2 linked regions of the Homo sapiens genome follow. The protein of the gene in region 2 purifies or fractionates together with the protein of the main gene of each other region. This does not show direct contact. Each region holds a gene or a part of one and is shown on either strand. Other genes may lie near its edges. The genes, in order: EHD2 and MYOF.

Region 1 (4,562 bases), on a different chromosome or scaffold from region 2:
GGTAAAATAGTGAGACCCCCATCTCTACAAAAAAAATAATTAGCTGGGCATGGTGGTGCATGCCTGTAGTCCTAGCACTTTGGGAGGCTGAGGCAGGAGGATTGCTTGAGCTCAGGAGTTCAAGGCTGCAGGCTGCAGTGAGCTATGATCATGCCGCTGCACTCCAGCCTGGGCTACAGAGTAAGACCCCATCTCAAAAAAAAAAAAAAAAAAAAAGGCCAGGCACAGTGGCTCATGCCTGTAATCCCAGCACTTCGGGAGGCTGAGGCAGGTGGACCACCTGAGGTCAGGAGTTTGAGACCAGCCTGACCAATATGGTGCAATCCTGTCTCTACTAAACATACAAAAAATTAGCCAGGCCTGGTGGTGGCCACCTGTAGTCCCAGCTACTTGGGAGGCTGAGACAGGAGAATCACTTGAACCCAGGAGGCAGAGGTTGCAGTGAGCCGAGATCCCGCCACTGCACTTGACAGAGCGACACTCCATTTCAAAAAAAATAGGGAGATCGTAGCGAACCAGCTGAAGGAGGAGAAAGATTAATGGTGACATGGTTGAAGAAGGGGGATTGATGGTGGTAGTGGAAGACCAAGAGATGGACAAGGCGAAGGATGCAGAAGCTGCCTGGAAGAAACGGATTCCTTAATCGCTTCATTCATTTCTTCCTCCCTTCTCCCTTCCATCATTTGACACCTTTTCACTGAAATCACTCACTCCATGCTTCAGGCACTGTGGACCCAGAAATGAGCCAGAGATCATCCCCTACCCACCCAGGGCCCCCAGTAAGGACCCAGACACATGCCAGACATCCAGAGGAGGGCATGAGAAACAGACCACAGCACCAGTAAGACTCAGGGCAGGGTTGACTTTTGAGCTGCTCCATGAAGAGCAGGCAAGACAAGGGGATTTAGGCAGAGAGGACGGTGCGTGCAAAGGTCTGGGGATGTGAAAGGTCCTGGTGTACTGGGAGCCATGAAACATCTGGGTAGGTGGCCAGACACAGGGGCACAAAGAGGAGGGGTGAGAAATGGAGCTGAGAAGGTTGCCTGGGTGCACCCAGGTCATGAGGGCTGTTGGGTGTTAACAAGAAAAATAATGCAACATTTATGATCACTGCATGCCAGGTACTGTACTAACTCACTTAACATTTATAACCCTGTAAAGTAGGTCTATTATCATCCCTGCTTTGCTTTGCTTTTCTTTCTTTTTATTTATTTATTTATTTATTTATTTATTTATTTATTTATTTGGAGATGGAGTCTCACTCTGTAGCCCAAGCTGGAGTGCAGTGATACAATCTCAGCTCACTGCAGCCTTCACCTCTGGGGCTCAAGGGATTCTCCTGCCTCAGCCTCCCAAGTAGTTGGGACTAGAGGCATGCACCACCACACCCAGTTAATTTTTTTTTGTATTTTTAGTAGAGATGGGTTTCACCATGTTGCCCTGGGTGGTCTCGAACTCCTGAGCTCAGGTGATCCACCCACCTCAGCCTCCCAAATTGTTGGGATTACAGGTGTGTGCCACCATGCCGGCTCATCTCTGCTTTTTTAACAAGGCAAAGGAGGCTCAGGAAGACAGCAATAAATTACCCAAGATCACTTAGCTGGAAAATGCTCAAGCTGGGACTCAAACACAGGCAGCCTGACCTCAGAGGTTGCAATCCTATTATAGGTCTAAAGATCTGAGTTAGGGAGGTTAGCCATGACCAACCCAGGAGCAATGAGCACCTCCAGCACCCAGACTGTGTTCTCTATCTTCCCTTACTAGCCTTTTATTCACCGTAGGATCTGTAGTGATGTCCCCTCTTTCATTCCCGATATCAGCCACAGGTGTGGGTATTTGCTTTTTTTAAAAAAGAAAAACAAAAACGATTGCTCCCCGTTGATGCTTATGATTTTACTGATCTTTTCAAAGAATCAACTTTTGGTGAGATGGGAGTCTCTAAATACCATTCCCCACTAAAAGAACCTGGGACTCCTTAGAGAAATGGTGGATTCCAGGGCGGGGGCAGGGAAGAACAAGTGAGCCTGGGTCAGAAGGTGAGGAAGTGCTCAAAGGCCGATAGGGCATGTTACAGGGACAGAGGACCCAGCTTGCAGGGGTGCCCAGTGGCCAAACATGGGGCAATTTGAGCATCAAAATAACTGCAAATCAAATATGCTAAAATCCATAAAATCATGAGACTTAAAAGGGGTGGCCAGGGAGTAGGGGAGATAAAAGCAAAAGGAGTTCGTAAAGGAGTGGCAAGAATGGAAAAGAGAGGCAGGATCTGGGATGTGGGCAGAGGGAGAGGGCTCTGGGCGGTGTCCCAGGCAGGGAGGGCCCTGAGAGAGAGCTGGGGAGAATGCTATCAGCGGTGGCCGATGGAGCTGGTGAGGCAGGAGAGGGGCTCTTGAGTGGCTGGAGGGACCAAGTTAGCTGATATGGATGAGGGCGTGGAGGGAGACCCTGCAGAGAGGATCTCTTCTAGCCCAGGGGATAGGGAGGGGTGTTGGGGGAGGATGGAGGAGACTGGGGGAGTGTGAGAGGCTGCGAAAGACTGGAGGAAGAGTGGGAGGAAGAGTGGGAGGAGTGGGAAGAGTGGGGGACATGGTTACAGACTGGGGGGACTGGTGAAGACTGGGGGACACCTGGGGAGACCGTTACAGACTGGGGACAGGGTGGCAGGGAGCAGGGGTCAGGCATGAGGAACCAGGGCAGGCTTGGGCGGGGGTCGGGAGGCGACAGCTGCGGTGCTGGGAGCACTCACCGACGGGGCGCGCTGGCGGCTGCAGCGGGCTGGGCAGGCTGGGAGAGGGTGGGGTCCCGCGAGGATCCGAAGCGCCCGCGGAGCGGCCTGTGCTCGCGGTCCCGTCCGGAGCCGTCTGAGCCGGGTGGGGCCCGGAGCGGGGAGGACGGGAGGGAGGACAGGAGGGAGGGGCGGGACGAGGCGCCCCCCTCAAAACCGGGCGCCCGGCCTCTGGCGCCCCCTTGTGGGGAGTGGGGAAGACGCCTTAGCACGGCGGGCGAGAGCTCCAGCGTCCAGCCTGGGGTTCGAATTCCGCCTCCACCTCCAGCGTTGGGCTGCTCCCCAGTCTGTCTCTCTTCTTAACACGGGAATCACAACAGCAGCAGCAATAATAGTAACAATAACAGGTCGGGCGCCCTGGCTCACGCCTGTAACCCTAACACTTTGGAAGGCCAGGGTGGGAAGATTGCTTGAGGCCAGGAGTCCAAGACCAGCCTGGACAATATAGCGAGACCCCATGTCTATTAAAAATAATAATAAATAATAAAATAATTTAGCCAGGCACAGGGGTGCACACCTGTGATCCCAGCAACTTGGAAAGCTGAGGTGGGAGGATAGCTTGAACCCAGGAGGTCAAGGCTGCAGTGAGCTATGATTGTGCCACTGCACTCCAGCCTGGGTGACAGAGCGAGACCTCACCTCTAAAAAAAATAATAGGACGGGGCGCGGTGGCTCACGCCTGTAATCCCAGCACTTTGGGAGGCCGAGGCGGGTGGATCACTTGAGGTCAGGAGTTCAAGACCAGCCTGGCCAACATGGTGCAAACCCATCTCTACTAAAAATACAAAAAAATTAGCTGGGCGTGGTGGCGGGCGCCTGTAGTCCCAGCTATTTGGGAAGCTGAGGCAGGAGAATCACTTAAACACAGGGGAGGTGGAGCTTGCAGTGATTGCGCCACTGCACTCCAGCCTGGGGACAGAGCAAGACTCCATCTCAAAAATAAATAAATAAACAAAAATTAGCTGGATGCAGGCACGCACCTGTAGTCCTAGCTACTTGGGAGGCTGAGGCTCCCAAGTTCCAGAATCACTGGAACCCAGGAGGCAGAGGTTGCAGTGAGCCAAGATCACGCCACTGCACTCCAGCCTGGGTGACAGAGTGAGAATCCATCGCAAATAAATAAGTAAATATAATATTAATATTAAAACTTAAGGGAGTTGATGAAACTTCTCAGCTGACAACCCTCCCTGGCTCTCCTCTCTCTCAGAGTAAAAGCCGAAGTCCACACCAAGGCCCACAAAGCCTAGCATGATCCACCTACATCTCCCCTGTCCCCCTTCCTCAGGCGGCTCCAACCGCCGTGGCCTCCTCACCATTCCTCAGACACACCCCCAACCCTCCAAGTTCATGGCCTTTGCACTTGCTGACTCCTCTCCATGGAGTACTTTCCCCATAGGGATCTGAATGCCTCACTCTCTCCCCTCCTTCAGGTCCCTGCTCAAATGTCACCTCCTCAGAGAAGTCCTCCAGGATCACCCTGGCTAAGGTAGAACCCACTCTCTACCTCTTATCACTGCCCTATTTTTCTCCACAGCCCTCCCAACCACTCTGCATATTCCACATTTCTCTGCCTAAGGGACTGTCTTTGCCCTGAGAACATGAGCCCCGTGAGGGCTTTGCACAATGCCCAACTCCCTGCAGGGGCTCAGTAAACATTTGTAGAAACAATCCCTAATGTTGACTGAGCCATTCCTATGTGCAGGCACCGCTCTGAGCTCTTTGCATGCATGTATTAGCTCATCGAACCCTCATCATATCTCCAAGAAACAGGAGTTTT
Region 2 (3,811 bases):
TGAATAGATGGAAAGTTTACTGGAGAAATAAGTAAGTATTGCTCACAGATATTTCTGTGCCACTGGAGTTATTTTGAAGCTTTAAGAAATCATCACTACAGTGGGAGAATTTAAGGGGAAAAAGTCACTGACAAGCTGAATATAAGGCAGGGTTTTTCTATTTGTCAGGTTTTGGAAATAAACTCTGTGTTTGTGTGTGTGTGTGTGAGGCACATACTTTCATATTTCAACGCGCATGGGTGATCACAGAGAATCGATACTGTACCACTTTCATGAAGAGAACAGAACTTGGAAAGTTGGGTGTCTTCTTAAGGTTTTTGATCACCACCGATTCCACCCTTTCTCCTCCACACTCCACAACAAGACTGGGGGATGTGATAGAAGCCATCTGGAAGTTTTTCATATTTCTTAAGCCCCAAGCTAGAATCTATGAAAACGATTTAAAGAGAGGGGAAGGTAACTCAGCACTTTAAAAATAATATTCAAAAGGAAAAATTCTGTCTTAATTACTGGCAAAGTCTTTAAGATTAATTTGAACATTATCCTAGTAAGCTTGTAGGTCATCCAAAGAAAGTGGTTTTGCCCCTTTCTTTCTCCTGCCTGAGCCCCTAAAAAAGCAATGCAGTTAAGAGTATAGGAATCAAATCCTGGCTGTGCCATCTAATAGCTGTGTCAATGCTGACAAGGTAACTCACCTCCCTATGTCTCATCTACAAACAAGACTGATCGTATTATCTGTCATAGGGTTATATTGATGACCACCTGTAAACTTTTTTTTTTTCTTTTTTGAGACAGAGTCTCACTCTGTCACCCAGGCTGGGGTACAGTGGCACGAACTAGGCTCACTGCAACCTCCACCCCCTGAGTTCAAGTGATTTTCATGTCTCAGCTTCCCAAGTAGCTGGGATTACAGGTGTGTGCCACCATGCCTAGCTAATTTTTGTATTTTTAGTAGAGGCAGGGTTCCACCATGTTGACCGGGTTGGCCTCGAACTCCTGACTTCAAGTGATCCACCTGCCTTGGCCTCCCAAAGTGCTGGAATTACAGGCGTGAGCTACTGCATCCAGCCCACCTGTAAACTTCTTAACACGGTGTCTGACATGGAAGCATTTCGAAGTGATAGCCTCAGCCTTTGAGAACTCTTAGCAGGACAGCCAGAGAAGGGAAATCTTGGGGTGTTAACAGCTGCTTGACTGGACGGGGAAAGTCTTGAGAGTGGGCCAGACACTGTCTATCAAGCCACCTTGTTGGGGTCATCAGCTTGTATCTGACATGTCAACATTGCTCACTGCTCCCATCCAACTTCCATCTCTGCCTCCCTGCCATGCCCCCATCTCTCAGCATATACACCGTCATTCTCTTCTCGTCCATCTTCCCTCTCCCAGGTCTCCAGTTGACCTGAAAAACTCAGAAACCTGCTGGCTCCCAGTAAATGAGGAGTTTAGATGCCCTCAGGAATGTTAGAATTGACCTGTCCTTGTTGCTTCAACAAGCCTTCTACTCCCATGAATACCTCCAGTTTTTGGACAAGTTGTAAAGGAAGTTGGAGATAGCAAGAAAATATGCAGCAGGATTCTATGTTCTATACAAAAGATTCCTGTCCTGCAGTCACATCCGTTTGATTTGATGAGTAACACGTGGGGAGCAGCATACCTCAATGGCAGTGAGCTGGACCACAGGCCTGATCCCCTGGGGGACCATGTATAGATTTGGCGCCCTTTGAGGGGGAAGAATGGGAAGGTTGGAGCCATCCTGTGAAACAAACATGGATATGTCAATGCCTCACTTTAGTTCAAGCAAACAGTGCCTAGAATTAACATGCATTTTAAGCAGCTGACAGAATACATGAGGAAGAACACAGCAATGTACCTTGCCCCTCAGAATCAGCTCTGCAGTTACAAGAACATCCCCGCAGGCTTTGTCTCCATTCATTACTGGGTGCCAGAGAAGTTTGGGTGTGATGTCCATTTCTGAGTTCAGTTTCACCACAGGAGAGAAAATGCTTCGTCCTAAAAATTCATCTTTGCCCTAGAGAAACAAAGTGATCCTTAAATTCCCCGACAATCATCCCTTCAAATCTCCATCATCCCCAAGTTATCTTAGAAATTCTAAACGACCTACCACTTGGTCATTGTCAAAAAGTTCCATGATAACTTTGGGTGGATTCTGTAGAACTGTTTGGGGTTCCCCATAGATTTCAACTTCATCGAATATAATTGTTTGGTCCCACGTGGGATTCAGGGTTGAATGGATGATCTCAGTGGTTTTGCTCCGATGGAGGAAACAGATATGAGCATATGGATCTAAAACAGAAAAAGAGAATAACAACGGGGCCACGGCTAAAATCTAACTCCCCAGAACCACTCAGTGCAACCATATTCTTTTCCTCTGGATATAATGACAGTGGGCTCTGACCACCTGCCTGGAGATAGGGTTTCTAGGGAGCAGGGAGTTCCCCATGGAAGGTTCTGGCACTGCAGCAGAGGCACCTGAAGCGAGACCCTGATGTGTACTGAGAGGTCACTCTTTAGAGTATGTCCCCACCAAGGTTAATGGGGCCCATAGTTTTTCTCTGCAAAAGTACTGCACTCATGGTTGAGTGAGGCTCTGCAGTCAGATACACCTGGGGTCAACACCCACACTTCACCCCTGCTGCATAACTTTGAGGGAAAAAATAATCTTCCTAAACGTTGATCCCCTCCTCCATGCAATGAAAGTAATATCTGCTTCACGGTGTTGAGAGGATGAAATGATATAAGGAATGTTAGCTATTTGGGACAGAGCCTGTCCTATAGGAAGTATCTGATAAATGCTAGTTTTTATTATAGTTGTTTCTAATGTTGATGGTAATCGATTTATTCAGCAAATATTTATTGAGTTCCAGGTCTCAAGAGTATAACAGCAGCCGGAAAAGCTCAGATGCTCATAGAGTTTACAATCTGTGACAGCAGAAAACTTTGTCTCACTATACTTAAGAATGGAGAGAAAGCAATATTATGTATGGAGAAATAATCCATGTTCTCCTCCTTGCTAAATAATTTCATCAAACTTTTTGCAGTTGCCTGGGGGCTGACTTATCTGAAAAATAACACAATATCTAGCCTGAAACTCTTGTATAAGCCAAAAGTGCTTGGTTTCTAGCAGTGGAGCCATCATATGAACCCTTTGCTTTTGCCCTGATGATAATTCTTCTATCTCAAACTGCAAGGAATGTGCTTAGAGTTTTATGAAGCTTTAGTCAAGAACTTTGGAAAGATGTTTTTTTAACTTTCAGTGATAGAGTGCCCCCTGGTGGAAAATATTTGAAAATGTCTTCAAAGACCCTGTTGGAGATGTATATTGCAGAGATAACCTTGAATCTGCTCAAATTTCTAAGAAAAGGAAACCATTCACAAATATTGGTAAATATTAGTGCTTGGAACACGCTTCAAAATTGATGTGAGCACATGAGAGTGTCAGTCAAATGCTTTAACAAACTTTCCGTTTGGAATAAAAAAGTGCAGCTCGCTGCCAGCACTCATTTCTCGGGGCAAATGGGAAATGGGTTAAGAGGTGTTTTCATAGAAGGCCCAGGGAAACTCTGCTGGGCTTTGAGTCCCAAACTGGAATTCTCCCCAGATAGCCTGAACTATCCATGGTTCAGCGGCAAGGACTCAAATCCCCAGACAGGCATGTTCTCCCCTCCTCCCCTGTCCCTTGCCAATAGCCTTCCTCTCAGAACCAGTCCGAAGCAACAAAAGCAGCTGGGTGTCAGTGCAAGAGAAGAAAAAGCCTCATGGTTTTATGGTATTGGGAATGTGGGGAGCAGGC

What was found.
Region 1: the proteins of MYOF (region 2) and EHD2 purify together in Homo sapiens (affinity purification with western blotting, with the first as the bait; one study listed by BioGRID). This does not show direct contact.

The regions. Positions count from the first base shown.
Region 1 is NC_000019.10:47,711,723-47,716,284, reverse strand, and holds the start of EHD2 (EH domain-containing protein 2), read right to left. Parts: upstream 2,864-4,562; 5' UTR 2,747-2,863; intron 1-2,746. UniProt on the Homo sapiens protein: ATP- and membrane-binding protein that controls membrane reorganization/tubulation upon ATP hydrolysis. Plays a role in membrane trafficking between the plasma membrane and endosomes. Important for the internalization of GLUT4.
Region 2 is NC_000010.11:93,349,543-93,353,353, forward strand, and holds part of MYOF (myoferlin), read right to left. Parts: intron 2,305-3,811; coding exon 2,123-2,304; intron 2,030-2,122; coding exon 1,871-2,029; intron 1,754-1,870; coding exon 1,655-1,753; intron 428-1,654; coding exon 266-427; intron 1-265. UniProt on the Homo sapiens protein: Calcium/phospholipid-binding protein that plays a role in the plasmalemma repair mechanism of endothelial cells that permits rapid resealing of membranes disrupted by mechanical stress. Involved in endocytic recycling.